4 linked regions of the Homo sapiens genome follow. The protein of the gene in region 2 interacts with the protein of the main gene of each other region in a pairwise test. Each region holds a gene or a part of one and is shown on either strand. Other genes may lie near its edges.

Region 1 (3,975 bases), on a different chromosome or scaffold from region 2:
TGGAATGCAGCATGCTGAAACTCACTGTGCAACCCCTGCCTTGTGTGTGTCTGTATACCATGCAGGTTTGCTTGCTAAATTGAGCCTGTAAACCAAAAAGTACCTCAAACAGGTCTCAATTAATTTAGAAAGTTTTTGTTGCCAAGGCTAAGGATGCACCCGTGGTACAGCCTCAGGAGGGAGGACATCCTTGCCAAGCTCAAGGGTGCACCCCTGACCACAAGGGCCCAAGGTGGTCGGGGCACAGCTTGCTTTTATACATTTTAGGGAGATATGAGGCATCAATCAATACATGGGAGATTTACATTGGTTCCATCTGGAAGGGCGGGACAACTTGAATTGGGGGGCTTCCAGGTCATAGGTAGATTTAAACATATTTTGATTGGCAACTGACTGAAGAATTATTATCAGCAGAAAGGAGTGTCTGGGTTATGAAATAGGGGTTGCAGGGAGCAGATGATGCCTTCAGGTAGCGGGATTTAGAGAGAAAATAGATGGTAAATGCTTCCTATCAGACTTAAGGTCTATGTCGATGTTAATGCTGGGGGTTATGATGTGGCATGGCCTGAACGTCTTCCGGGTTAAAGTTTAGAGCACCCTGGCGGACAGGGAACCCCATTCAGATGGTTGCTGGGGGGCCTTCGAATTTTATTTTTGGTTTACAAGCCTTCCCATCAGCTGCGCCAGGGTCAGCAAACCACAGTCCATGGGCCCAATCTGGCCTGCCACCTGCTTTTTGTAAATAAAGTTTTATAGGAACACGCCCACACCTCTGGCAGCTGCTTTGCAAGCACGCAGCAGGGTTGAGTTGTTGCAACATAGACCACAGGGCCTGCCAAGCCTCAATTATCTGTGCTCCGACCCTTTAAGAAACACTTCTCTCACCCCTGAGCTAAGCAGAATAAGAGGGGCTGGACGTGCAGGACTCAGAGTGGGAGCGAGGAGGGCTGGGGTGAGGACAGCTTTGTCACACTCTGTTTTTCTGTCACTCAGCCCTGGGGGCTCCCTCTGCCTGAGGGCTTCGTCCCCTGCTGCCTGGCCGTGACCCGCAGCACAAGCACAGATAAGCCTCAGGGAACAAAAGGCAGGGCTGCCACGGAAGCCCATCCACCAATCCTCACCTCTCACCTCTGTGTCCGCCCTGCTGGGAAATATTCCAGGCTTTGGCCAAGGCCAGTGCAGCCCCAGGTTCCCGAGCGGCAGGTTGGGTGCGGACCATGGCCTCTCACAAGCTGCTGGTGACCCCCCCCAAGGCCCTGCTCAAGCCCCTCTCCATCCCCAACCAGCTCCTGCTGGGGCCTGGTCCTTCCAACCTGCCTCCTCGCATCATGGCAGCCGGGGGGCTGCAGATGATCGGGTCCATGAGCAAGGATATGTACCAGGTAGGAGTGGGGGTCACTCGGGGGGCCTGGGTCTCACCCATGTTCCCACCCACAGATCGTGGACGAGGGAAGGGGGTCACTGCCTCCTCACTTGGGGAGGCGGGGAGCCTGGGTCTCACCCTATACCACCCGCATGCAGATCATGGACGAGATCAAGGAAGGCATCCAGTACGTGTTCCAGACCAGGAACCCACTCACACTGGTCATCTCTGGCTCGGGACACTGTGCCCTGGAGGCCGCCCTGGTCAATGTGCTGGAGCCTGGGGACTCCTTCCTGGTTGGGGCCAATGGCATTTGGGGGCAGCGAGCCGTGGACATCGGGGAGCGCATAGGTAAGGGAGAGGCCCAGGTGGGGATGGCCCTGGATCCATCCTTCAAGGCCTCCCTGGCCTCCCTCTGTTTGAAGCTGGCAGCCCCCGTTCCTGGGTGAGCGCTTACCCACCTTGTGGCCCTGTGCGCACGAACCTCCTGCCAGCCCACTGCCTCCTCCAGGCGGTGTCGGGCACTCATGAGGCCTGACTCTGATAGGGCTGGGAGCAGCACAGGTGCCCCGATCCCCCCAGTCTCCTTGAGCTGTTTCTGGAGCATGTGCAGGACGGAACTACAGGGAAGCCTCTGGTCCCAGCACACACTCCTGAGAGCCCCGGCCGCTGTCCAGGGCCCCAGGCACCAGCTCTGCTTTGTGACAGGGTGGGGTTTCAGAAGCTGAAGCCTCCCCTCAAATCTCAGCAGCCTTCCTTCTGGAATCTTGATGTGATACACAAAATATGGAGGTATGGGCAGAGTATTCGCCTCCGGAGTACACTTTTCTGGGAGAGACACAGGAGCAGGAGTGTGCCCTGGGTTTAATGATTGATTGTGGCATTGAGGGACATCAGCTTGGTGAGCTCCACAATGGCCATGCTGGTTAATACGCGACCGCAACAGCCAAGAGGGTCCCAACCCCAAGTCCACAAACTTTTCAAGGGGACCCAGGGTCGGCAGAGGCCAGGACCCCAAGTGGACATCAGGGCACGCAGGCTCAGATGCCTGTGGTATATGGCTTCCCTTTTCCCCATTCTGTCCCCTTGGCCGCAGGTTCTTCCCCTCCCACAACCTGGCCCTGAACAGCACACAGGATAGGGCAGAGACAGGGAGGGGGTGAGGGCCTGATTCCTGGAGTCCCCAGCTCCAACAGAGGTCAAGGCTGCTGCCTCACTCACCCCTCATCCTTCAGTCTGTCATCCATCACACCTGTGGTGTGCCAGCCCTGGACCAGGTACACTCTTTGTGCCAGCCCTGGGCCAGGTGCAGCCCTGACTCCCGGGAGCTCACTCTCTGCTTGGGGAGGCACTGGTCAGTGTGGCCTGAGAAAGGGCATTTGAGCTGAGCTCTGTCAAGAGTGCCCCAGGAGCGTTGGCTCCAACAGCAGGGGGGTCAAGATGGCCCTGGCTCTACACACAGAGAGGCTCTCATTGGGCAGAGTCCACCCTCCTCTTCAGGCAGGCAGCCAGGGTGCCACGGTGGGTGGGGTCCAGCCCTCACAGGGCCCTGCTCAGCAGGGCCACGGGTGCCCAACACTGGCTTCTACAGTGTGTGCGGGACACTCACGGCCCACTCTGTCCTGCACCCAGGAGCCCGAGTGCACCCGATGACCAAGGACCCTGGAGGCCACTACACACTGCAGGAGGTGGAGGAGGTAGGGGACCCGGGGTGGGGGTCAGGGCCGGGAGGAGGTGGGAGTGGGCATGCTGGCTCAGGGGCTGCCTGGAATTGGCCAGCCAGCAGGGTGGGATCATGGCCGGGAGGCTGGTGGCTGACCCTCAGCCCATCCTAGCATCTGGTGAGCGGCCACAGGGGAGGGTTCCATTACCTGGGAATGGTGGGAAGACTGGTAAGGAGGCTTCTGTCTGGCAGGGAAACTGAGTCAGGAGCCTGGTCCTGTAGGCAGGGCCAGAGAGGCTGGAGGCAGGAGGCCGAGTTGGAGTCTAGGCTGCAGAACATGTCCCTGACACTCAGGATACCCCACCCTGTGGGCTGAAGTCAACCTCAGCCTACCCGGAGTGTGGGGACTCAGTCCATCTAGCAACAGCCCTCACAGGCCAGGCAACAGGCTGGGGGCACCCTCCTCCATCTCTGCACCAAAGTCCTGTTCTTGGAAAAGCCCTTGTCCCGGAGCGGAGATGCCCCAGCCTCCTCCTCCCATGCACACCATCAGGGAGGAGTAGAGGCAGGCCCAGCCCCTGCTACCTGGAGCTGTGCCACCCATGGGGGGTTTGTGGGGGTGTTCTGGCCCCTGCCCCTCTGAGCTCCACCCACAGCCGTCCCTGCTTCCTCAGGGCCTGGCCCAGCACAAGCCAGTGCTGCTGTTCTTAACCCACGGGGAGTCGTCCACCGGCGTGCTGCAGCCCCTTGATGGCTTCGGGGAACTCTGCCACAGGTGAGCCTGGCCCCAGGGCGGTGGACTGGAGCACAGCTCAGAGCCAGGCTATGGGGAGGGGTGGGCACTGGTCCCTCTGGTCCTTCTGCCCCTGGTCCCCACCCCAGCCTCTGTCACATGGTATGGGGTGCAGGCACCTCCCAGGTCCTCTTTGCTCTGGGCTGAGTCTAAAGA
Region 2 (4,135 bases):
GCATGGGAATGAGGATGCCTCTAAACTGACCAAGACTTACTTCCTCATGCTTTTCTCTGGGGCAGCATCAGGCAAGCAGCCATACCCTGGAACAAGAGTGTGGTCCTCAATGGCTTTGCTGAGTGAACTTCTCCAAGTCATCTCGCCTGGGAAAGAGATTTCTCAAAGACCATTTAAAGCTTTCCAGAGGGCAACAGCGAGACAGTCGCGAGCCAAGGTTACCATAAATGCTTCCACAACCCCTGATTTCATTTCGGAAATAAGGAAAGAAGTAGTCACCACTGCAGGCGTTGCTTACGCCTCATCCAGCAGCCTCCCACCCCCAATCCCTCAACAATTAAGAGACAATAAAAGTAAAGATAATATTACTGTAGGGCCATTGGTACACTGAAACGTCGTTGAATTAAAAAGTCTTTATTTCAGCCTAACATCTTCTCCATCCACCCACACTTGAGCACAGAACATTCCAGGCAGGCAAAGCCACCCTTGCCCTCCTCTCCTTGGCCACGTCCTCAGGGGTGGGCGAGCTTCGGGGGGAGGGGTGGGGGTGAAGACTCCGTGCCAACGCAAAATACTCTGCCAAAAGGCTTCTCAGACATGAGTTTCCCAGGGCAATGCCCACCTTCCGTTCCCCGCCTTCCCGAGTCTCTTCTCCCAGTTTATGCTGGAACCCTGGAATGGTCTGGGGACCAATGAGATGGCAGCGGTTAACGCTTGGATCACGGTGAGGGGGCGATTTCCAGGGGGAGAGGCCAAGAAGCAAGGAAGGGGGTGGGGGGCAGGAGGAGAAAAGTGGGAAGCGCGGACAAAAAGTAGGCGGGGAGGAGAGGAGAGCCCCAGCTGGGGAAAAGCAACGGCAGTCGAGGTAAAAAGAGCGAAAGGTAAAGAAAGAGCAGGTTCGTGGACAGGAGCCGGCGGGCAGGCCGGGGGATCCCTGGTGAGGAAGCGGCGAGGGAGGGGCGTGGGCCGAGCCGGGGGCGCCGCGGGGAGGGTCGCTGTCAGTCAGGCCGAGCGGGGCTCGCTGGCCTGGGGGCGGCCGCAGGGGCGCAGCGCAGCCTGAGGGCGCGGCGGCCCCGGCAGCCTCCGCAGTGGCAGTGGTGGCCGCGCCCCCGTCCCCGGCCGGGCGCCCGCGCTGCGTTCCTTGTCCCCCAGCGCCGGCTTCGGGCCGCGGCCGCCCAGGCTGCCCCCGCCCGCGCGCGCCCGTTGGGGGGCCCGGGGAGCGGCGCCCGCGGCCGGGCCGCATTGTGACGTAGCGGGGCCGCGGCAGCGCCTCCACCGCCCGCCTACTTCGGCTGAGGCTGTTCTGCTCCTGCCGCTGCGGTCCGTCGGTCGGTCAGTCAGTCCCTTCGCGCTCCTGAGCCGCCGGCGCGCCGGGCGCCCCGGGTGAGTCCAGGTCCCAAGCGGACGCCGCGGGGAGGCGGGAGGCGGGCAGCCAGCGGCTCAGCCTTTCCAAGTTTGCACCAGGCGACCCCGGCGGGTGTCGCCCCGTGCTCCCCAAGCCCCGGGACCCCTTTGTGCCGCGAGTCTCGGCTGCTCCGGGCAGCAGAGGCGCCTCTGCAGAAAGGGTTTGAGGGGGAGGTCTCTATAGTAACAGTAACAGTGGTGGCGGCAGCGGCTGCTTTACTGGGGAAAGGGGGAAACAACCCCCGCCTCGGTTTCCAAAGGATTGTTCTTTTCATTTGCCCGCCTCATGTGGTTCTTATTCTTGCTGTCACCCGGGATCTTATCGCAGGCAGGGATGGGCAGTTCCGCGGCTCGGAAAAGCTGAGATAAGGAGGGGCGAAGTAATAGTAATAGCGACAGTACTAACAACGGTAATAATAGCTGTAGAAAAGGGACGTCTGGTGTTGCTGCCGCCCCTCGCTCATCAGCACCAGCTCCCCGACTGCCCTGTCCAGCCCGGGCTCCGCCAGCCTCCCTCTAGTGCTGTTCTGCGTCCCAGGCTGGTCCGCGTGGATTTCAGAGGGGAATGTTTCTCTCTTGGCCTTGTCTCTTGGCGATGACTTTCATCTGCAGGTGGTAAGTGGGGTGAACCCAATTTTAGCTAATTGTCAAAGGCCACATTTTGTTTATTTCATTTTTACGAAGAGAAAAGAGGGAAAATTATGAGCCATTACTGGCAGCCATACAGTTTCCACAGGAAATACTAGCATTCTTTGAGGAACACGCTACTGCTTGCAGCGAAGAAAGTCTTAGGAAACAAAAAGGCAACAGCATTGTTGCTCATTTTCAATGGACGGCTAGGAGGGGGGAAACGTGTTGTTTTTTCCTGTGGGAACGTTGCTTTCCTTGGGAAAGTTAATTAAGGAAGCATTACTGTCGGTGCCCCTTTTCACTTGCTGGAGGCAGGATCGGATTCCTCTTGGCTGTTACTGACAAGTGCCCATCAAAGAGCCCGGAGGACGGGAGAACTGCTGCAGGACAGTCTCGCCACACACCACGTGCCGTGGAGCCTGGCCAGGGTGCAGTTTGCAAAATGAAATAAGGGCTGTCTGGGGAAGTTTATGAGGATTACATGTGTGCACAGTATGTCAGTTCTCCAAGGTGTCACTCTAAACACGTAATTTTCAAGCACTACTTTCGTTGCTGAATCTGTAGGAAGGGAAAAACCTATTTTTCTTTTATGGAGCAGACATCCCAATTGGGAATGGGTTGAAATCTGTATTTCATTTGTACATATTGAAAATTTAAAAGGCAAAGAACAAGGTGTAGGAAAGCAGTATGCTAATGTGTACACATCTGGGAGAGAAAGTCTATTGACTGTTTCTGATGCATCTCAATGTTAAATTACATTCAGCATGGTTAGAGTACAAGGAGACACCTTTAAGCAGTCCTCAAGACTTTTTGGAAGGTGCAATATTTCGGTACTGATCGCGGAAGTCTCTCTGGAAAGGGAGTATTAACTGAGGATTACCCATAACTAAATATGTATGCATTAACAGGTCTGGAATCAGAAAGTAAAAGATAGTGCTTCTCTTAAGGATCTTTTGGACACCTCAGTTAGAAATAAAATATAGCATGGGATTTTGAAAAGAAGGGGTATAATTTTGAATGTAAATTTCATTTTCTCCGTAGCAAGCATTTCATGAAGAAAAGTTACAGATAGTAGATTTGAAATGATGCTGCATTCATGAATTTGACGGTTACCATTTGTTGATATCCAAAAGGAAGTGACTAAAGCAAATGCATTTCTCTGTCTACTCTGTCACAACTTTCCTAATTCCAGACAGTTGTTCTGGTGCAGGTGTACAGTGGAAATGCAAGCCAAGAAACTTTGTGCGTGCTATTGTTTTGGAAGAAATTGTAGCAGTACTTTACTGCTCTTAAGGGAAACCCACACAAACATCTAATACAAACAAATGATCTTTGATATTAGCAGAAAAAGCCTGGAGCTGTTTTTCTTGCCAGATTTAAGGCATTTCTTGTCAAAAGAGGAAATCTCCCAAGGAGCAGGTGCATCATTATAGGAAACACAAGGGAATTTCTCTTTTAAATGCAAAATCTAATTGAATAGCAACAAGAGAATCAGTAACACTCTTAGAATAGAAGCTTTGTTTTTGGCAGTTTGTCAGGTTACAGTTGCAAACCACATAGGAGAAATATGTGTCTTGGGAGAAAAATGATATCCTGGTGAAAATCAAATAGTTGCTTCTGTGAAACTTTTACCCTTATATACTTATTTTCTTGTGCCCATTTGATTTATATGCAGATTCACTTGCAGGAAGTTATTTATGGAAAATGAATCAAAAACTTGTTTGCTAGTATCATATGTACTATGCATGATTTTTCACTTTATAGATTAGGTAACTAGATTTATATTTTATGGTTTGCATCTTAGCGGTTTTTTACGTTTTTGAAATTAATGATCAAAATATGTGTTAAAATAATTTTTAATTGATAAGACTGATAGCTAGGCCCTGGGAAAGTACTAATTGATTCCTAAATAGTTATCGTGCATTTACTTTGTGCTTATTTGTAATACAGCAATTTAAAATCCATAGTCTTTTCGTAAGGAACATTTTCATAGGAAATAGGACCCATGGAAAATTAAATGATACTAAACATCGAAGAACACATTTCATAATTGAGTGCCTAAGATGCTAAATAGTAATTGAAAAGGAATTCTGAGGAGAGA
Region 3 (3,500 bases), on a different chromosome or scaffold from region 2:
GTCAATTCTAAGCCAAAAGAACAAAGCTGGAGGCATCACGCTACCTGACTTCAAACTATACTACAAGCCTACAGTAACCAAAACAGCATGGTACTGGTACCAAAACAGAGATATAGATCAACGGAACAGAACAGAGCCCTCAGAAATAACACCACATATCTATAACTATCTGATCTTTGACAAACCTGAGAAAAACAAGCAATGGGGAAAGGATTCCCTATTTAATAAATGGTGCTGGGAAAACTGGCTAGCCATATGTAGAAAGCTGAAACTGGATCCCTTCCTTACACCTCATACAAAAATTAATTCAAGACGGATTAAAGACTTAAACGCTAGACCTAAAACCATAAAAACCCTAGAAGAAAACTTAGGCAATACCATTCAGGACATAGGCATGGGCAAGGACTTCATGTCTAAAACACCAAAAGCAATGGCAACAAAAGACAAAATTGACAAATGGGATCTAATTAAACTAAAGAGCTTCTGCACAGCAAAAGAAACTACCATCAGAGTGAACAGGCAACCCACAAAATGGGAGAAAATTTTCACAACCTACTCATCTGACAAAGGGCTAATATCCAGAATCTACAATGAACTCAAACAAATTTACAAGAAAATAACAAACAACCCCATCAAAAAGTGGGCGAAGGACATGAACAGACACTTCTCAAAAGAAGACATTTATGCAGCCAAAAAACACATGAAAAAATGCTCACCATCACTGGCCATCAGAGAAATGCAAATCAAAACCACAATGAGATACCATCTCACACCAGTTAGAATGGCAATCATTAAAAAGTCAGGAAACAACAGGTGCTGGAGAGGATGTGGAGAAATAGGAACACTTTTACACTGTTGATGGGACTGTAAACTAGTTCAACCATTGTGGAAGTCAGTGTGGCGATTCCTCAGGGATCTAGAACTAGAAATACCATTTGACCCAGCCATCCCATTACTGGGTATATACCCAAAGGACTATAAATCATGCTGCTATAAAGACACATGCACATGTATGTTTATCGCGGCACTATTCACAATAGCAAAGACTTGGAACCAATCCAAATGTCCAACAATGATAGACTGGATTAAGAAAATGTGGCAAATATATACCATGGAATACTATGCAGCCATAAAAAATGATGAGTTCATGTCCTTTGTAGGGACATGGATGAAATTGGAAATCATCATTCTCAGTAAACTATCGCAAGGACAAAAAACCAAACACTACATGTTCTCACTCATAGGTGAGAATTGAACAATGGGAACACATGGACACAGGAAGGGGAACATCACACTCTGGGGACTGTTGTGGGGTGGGGGGAGGGGGGAGGGATGGCATTAGGAGATATACCTAATGCTAAATGACGAGTTGATGGGTGCAGCACACCAGCATGGCACATGTATACATATGCAACTAACCTGCACATTGTGCACATGTACCCTAAAACTTAAAGTATAATAATAATAAAAAAAAAAGAATGAAGTTTTCTAAACACTTTTCATTAGCTTTTAAAGCAAATGAAGAAGGCAACATTTGGATCACTTACACCCTCTCCGAGAAAGACCCCAGCAGAAGCACTGGTAAGGAGGCCCAAGTGCAACATCTGGCCAGGGGCTTTTTACACTTAAGGGAACTTCAGTGAAGTCAATAGCAAATCAGGTGGTGTCTGCAATTTTCTTTCATAAATAATCATACATTGTAAATATTATTTGGTCACAAAGATGTAAGTTTTAGAAGCTTTTGCATATAACATATTGACAATGATCCTCATCATTTTTATTAAGCTATGGACATCATGACTGGAGCATTCTGATTTGTCTCCTGTTCCCTCAAGTTTGTTGAATTAAACTGTTGTGGCTTGCTACTCAAAGAGAGGTCGCCAAGCTAGCAGTACTGCAGTCACCTGGGAGCTTGGCAGAAAAGCAGACTCTGAGATTTCATTGGAGACCTACTGAATTTTGGCAAAGACCCTGGGTGACTGGTATGAACATGAAAGTTTGAGAAGCACAGTTATCCAGCTATCATGTAAATGAACTGCTGTTAGCCAATTACTAAGGCTTATATTTAGTGAGAATAACCAATTAAAAAATGTGACATGTAGCTTTTAAGACACTTCAGAAGGAAATATAACATAATCTGAGGTAAAAGAAAGCATGCCTGTTTCAGTTCAGCCTCATTTAAGATGTCTTCTCGCTTTTTTTTTTTTTTTTTAGTATGACTCATTTCTTTTTCTTCATTCCTGTCGCACATCTTACCTCCTCCTCACTTTGTGAGTCAAACTTACCTTCAAGCAACTTAGGCAATCTCTGTGTGTCCTGAGAAAATGACAATGACAATAGCAGGATTGGGAAACCAGAAAGGCAGAACTTGCCCCACTGACTTTATTAAGTTCAGTTCATGTTCAGTATAACAGTTTAGAGCTTACAGATGTTGCGTCGTGACCATTGACATTTACCACCAACCTATGAGGTTGGCAAAACAAGTAACATCATCATCATTTCCCACTTAGAGCTAAAAAACCTAAGATTTCAGAAGATTCAGTGGCACATCCAGCAGCCCATACCAAACAACAGGCGGACTGTGGTGAGATGCTGGTTCCTGACTCCAAACCTTAACTCCTTCCCTGGACTGAAGCCTCTATCAGCAGGGGTCAGAGAGAATGTGGTTATGAGCATCACTAAGGTCAGCAATAAAGTGCCTGTCTCTTGGATTGGGAGTCTTCTGTATGCAAAATGCTCTCCTATACCTTATGGGAAGGGATAAGGTCAAAGAGTCTGCATCGGAGACTTTGCCTGCCCAACCCCCAGGCCTTGAGCATGATCACATGCTCCGTATGTTTTCTTCCAGAAGAAAGGATTTTCAATCTGCATTTAGAGAGAAGGAAGAAAATGGTATGAGCATGTGGAGGGGCGAGGCCTTTCAAGAAGCATGGAATTCCACCTAGGATTTTGCTTGTATGTTTGTTGCAGATGCCAAGTGGGCATGAGAAAGAAAAGCAATTCAGGAGGGGGAAGAAGTGAGGACTTGCATCTGGTGCTGCTTCACCATGATCATCATTTTCACCATCCTGCTCAAACACTCCCAGCAATCAGACTCTATGTTCAGTACTTCACATTGATTTTCTCAATTACTACTCAGACGTCAATCCTGGAAGGTAGGTATGTGCTCCCATGTTAGAGATGAAAACACTGAAGTAAGAAAGACCACAATATTTGCTCACGGTCACAGAGCTACTAAGAAGTGCAGTGGTTTATACCTCAGTATTTTGGACCTTGGAGCTCAAATATTGAGCGATTAAGGCTACTGTTTCTAATGTTTCATCCGTATCCACATGCCCTGTCGTATGTCCAGGGTCCTTGATTCCACCTCTTAAATCAGAACTGCTGAAGATGGGCTCCAGGCAGCTGGAACCTACACATGACGCTAGTTAATCTGATAAACATTGAAGACAGGGAACTGCTGCTGTAGGTTATTTGACCTCTAACTGTACATACATTGG
Region 4 (3,500 bases), on a different chromosome or scaffold from region 2:
TTCAACCTGTGTATCTAGATTGTCTTCCCCACTCTGTAATTAGGCAAAGACTGGCTGATGATTCTCTGTAGTAATTGAATCAGAGAACAACTAGCAATGAAAAAAGTTTAGGGGATGGGGAGAATAAGAGTTCCTATTCTGAATAGTCAGACTCTTGGACCTCTATTAGGCTGACAGAATGTTAACAATTAGGCTTGTTTTTTTTTTTTTTTGTTTTTGTTTTTTTTTTTTTGAGGCGGAGTTTCACTCTTGTCGCCCAGGCTGGAGTGCAGTGGCGTGATCTCCAATGTGAGCAATGGTTGCTCACTGCAACCTCTGCCTCCTGGGTTCAAGCGATTCTCCTGCCTCAGCCTCCAGAGTAGCTGGGATTACAGGTGCCCACTACCATGCCCAGCTAATTTTTATATTTTTAGTAGAGATGGGGTTTCACCGTGTCGGCCAGGTTGGTCTCGAACTCCTGACCTCAGGTGATCTGCCTGCTTTGGCCTCCCAAAGTGTTGGGATTACAGGTGTGAGCCACTGTCAGTCTAGGCTTACTTATTTTTTTTAGAGACAGGGTCTCACTCTGTTCCTCAGGCTGGAGGATGGTGGTGTGATCATAGCTCACTGTAACCACAAACTCCTGGGCTCAAGCAATCTTCCTGCCTCAGCTTCCTGAGTAGCTAGGACTGCAGGTATGTGCCCATGATGCCTGGCTAATTAAAGAAAAGTTTTTTATAGAGATGAGATCGTGCTATGTTGCCCAGGCTGGTCTCAAACTCCTGGCCTGAAGCAGTCCTCCCAAAGCATTGGGATTACATGCATGAGCCACCAGGCCCAGCCAACAATTAGATTTATATATCCCAGGCTGAGGGTTGGAATTCTTGTTTCTGGAAAAAGTGACCAGTCCAAGAAAAACTTCAGATACTGCCATTTGGGAGCTGTCTTCGTCTGTTTAATGTTGCTATAACAGAATACCTGAGGCTGGGTAATTTATAAAGAAAAAGATTTATTTGGCTCACCAGTTCTGGTGGCAAGATTGGGCAGCTGGTGAGGGCTTCATGGTGCTTCCACTCATGGCAGAAAGCAAAATGGGAGTGGGCATGTGCAAAGAGACATGGCAAGGGAGGAAGCAAGAGTGAATCCAGGAAGCCACACTCTTTAACAACCCTCTCTCCAGGGAACTAATCCATTCCTGATGGAGGAAGGGTATTAAACTATTCATGAAGGATCCACCTGCATGACTCAAACACCTTCCACTAGGCCCTGCCTGCCAACACTGTCACATTGGGGATCAAATTTCAACATGAGTTTGGGGGCAGGGAGACAAACCATATCCAAACCAAAGCAAGAATTTTCTATAGAAATAATGTAGTCCTGGGCCAGGCGCGGTGGCTCACACCTGTAATCCCAGCACTTGGGGAGGCCAAGGCGGGTGGATCATGAGGTCTGGAGTTTGAGACCAGCCTGACCAGCATGGTGAAACCCCGTCTCTACAAACATAAACAAATTAGCTGGGCGTGGTGGCGGGTGCCTGTAATCCCAGCTACTCGGGAGGCTGAGGCAGGAGAATCAGTTGAACCCAGGAGGTGGAGGTTGCAGTGAGCCAAGATCATGCCACTGCACGCCAGCCTGGGCAACAGAGCAAGACTTCGTCTCAAAAAAAAAAAAGAAAAAAAAATATTGTAGTCCTATCACTCATGCACACAGAGGTGACAATTAAGCATCTTGTTGCTTCTCCCTTGTGAGTACACAACCAACTATCACCAGGCTTTTGGAGAAAACTTCTTAACAAGAAAAAGATCAAAAGAAGCAAAAGGACCTCAACAGAAGCAGAAAATTCAACCATTGACAAAACTATGATTAATATTCTTGGTGAGATGAGAGGAGATTTTGCACCTGTGAAACAGTGCTATTAAAAAGACATTTTAGCCAAGAAAAACCTCATGGATATTAAAAAAATGTTGGAAGAAATGAAAAATTCAGTAAAGAGTTAAGAGGTTCATTCTACCAGAAAATAGAATGAAAAGATAAAAAGATAGAATGTAGGTAAGAATAGATAAAATTAGTGGGTCATTCTAGAAGGACCAATATAAACTATAGATAAATAGAACAGAGTAAAAGGAAGAATTAGCAAAGCATAATTAGAGAAAATTTCTCAAACCTCAAAGGGCATGAGTTTTGAGATTGAGAAGACCTACTGGCCTTGCCTCTATAGTGAATGTTTAAAGATCCACGCAAAGGCATATCATCATGACGTTTTAGATCCTACAAACGAAAATAAAAACAAAAAGATGTAAAAGCTTCCAAAGTGGGAGGTGGAGGATTGGTAAGCAGAGAGGTTAAATGCAAAACATCAAAATCAGAAATTGCATTAAACTACCCAGAAATAATTCTGGAAGCTAAGGGATGGTGGAGTGTTGTCTTTGTAATTTTGAGAGAATATAATCTCTGTCCTAGAATTTTCTAATCAAACTATAAATCAAGTGTGTGGGTAAAAGTTACTTCTAGACATGCAGAGTTTCAAAAAGTTACATCTCTTGTACCTTTTCTCAGGAAGCTACTAGAGGGTGTTCACCCCCAAAATGGAATAAAATAAGGACTCCAGCTGTGAAGCAGGGTTGAGACTATCAAGTACAGATTACAGCAGGATGATAGAAAAACGTGTCTTAGGCTGGGTGTGGTGGCTCATGCCTGCAATTTCAGCACTTTGGGAGGCTGAGATGGGCAGATCACGTGAGCCTAGGAGTTTGAGACCACCCTTGGCAACATGGTGAAAAATTAGCCTGGTGCTGTGGCTTGCATCTGTAGTCCCAGCTACTCGGGAGGCTGGGGGCAGGGGAGGCTGAGGTGAGAGAAGCGCTTGAACCCATGAGGTGGAGGTTGCAGTGAGTGGAGATCGCGCCATTGCGCTCCAGCCTGGGTGACAGATCTTGTCTTGAAAAAAGGAAAAACATGTCTTAGAAAAGATGAAATTAATAGAATAACTGACAATTGATATTTGAATTGGGAAGAAATTTAAGTTATCATGGAGAATGTGGGAAATGAATTTAGTGATAGCAAAGGAAATGAAAGTTATTAACTAAAGAATAGGACAGTTGAACAAGTAAGGAGATACGGTTTGCTAATCATTGCTCTGTTGTGACTGATCTACCGGATCATACTAACTTAAATACTGAATATTGACTTAACCAAATATTGATAATGGGAAGATGGTGGAAGAAAAAGTGTAACTAGGATGTGTGATTTTAATATCTAAATTCTCATTCATAGTAGAGGGTTATAGGCTTTTAAAAAATGTTTTTAAAATGAAAATCAAGAGGCCAGGCGCAGTGGCTCACGCCAGTAATCCCAGCACTTTGGGAGGCCGAGGCAGGTGGATCACAAGGTCAAAAGATCGAGACCATCCTGGCCAACATGGTGAAACCCTGTCTCTACTAAAAATACAAAAAAGCTGGGTGTGGTGGCGGGCACCTGTGGTCCCAGCTACTCGGGAGGCTGAGGCAGGGGAGTCGCTTGGA

The links. Proteins that work in one complex are often made in the same cells at the same time.
Region 1: the proteins of SNCAIP (region 2) and AGXT interact in a two-hybrid assay, tested with the Homo sapiens proteins (one large-scale study listed by IntAct).
Region 3: the proteins of SNCAIP (region 2) and PTN interact in a two-hybrid assay, tested with the Homo sapiens proteins (one large-scale study listed by BioGRID and IntAct).
Region 4: the proteins of SNCAIP (region 2) and NUDT21 interact in a two-hybrid assay, tested with the Homo sapiens proteins (one large-scale study listed by BioGRID and IntAct).

The regions. Positions count from the first base shown.
Region 1 is NC_000002.12:240,867,649-240,871,623, forward strand, and holds the start of AGXT (alanine--glyoxylate aminotransferase), read left to right. Parts: upstream 1-1,175; 5' UTR 1,176-1,217; coding exon 1,218-1,382; intron 1,383-1,521; coding exon 1,522-1,714; intron 1,715-2,995; coding exon 2,996-3,060; intron 3,061-3,700; coding exon 3,701-3,801; intron 3,802-3,975. UniProt on the Homo sapiens protein: Peroxisomal aminotransferase that catalyzes the transamination of glyoxylate to glycine and contributes to the glyoxylate detoxification.
Region 2 is NC_000005.10:122,310,902-122,315,036, forward strand, and holds the start of SNCAIP (synphilin-1), read left to right. Parts: upstream 1-1,335; 5' UTR 1,336-1,383; exon of another isoform or gene 1,384-2,019; intron 2,020-4,135. UniProt on the Homo sapiens protein: Isoform 2 inhibits the ubiquitin ligase activity of SIAH1 and inhibits proteasomal degradation of target proteins. Isoform 2 inhibits autoubiquitination and proteasomal degradation of SIAH1, and thereby increases cellular levels of SIAH.
Region 3 is NC_000007.14:137,333,734-137,337,233, forward strand, and holds part of PTN (pleiotrophin isoform 1 precursor), read right to left. Parts: intron 1-3,500.
Region 4 is NC_000016.10:56,441,333-56,444,832, reverse strand, and holds part of NUDT21 (cleavage and polyadenylation specificity factor subunit 5), read left to right. Parts: intron 1-3,500. UniProt on the Homo sapiens protein: Component of the cleavage factor Im (CFIm) complex that functions as an activator of the pre-mRNA 3'-end cleavage and polyadenylation processing required for the maturation of pre-mRNA into functional mRNAs.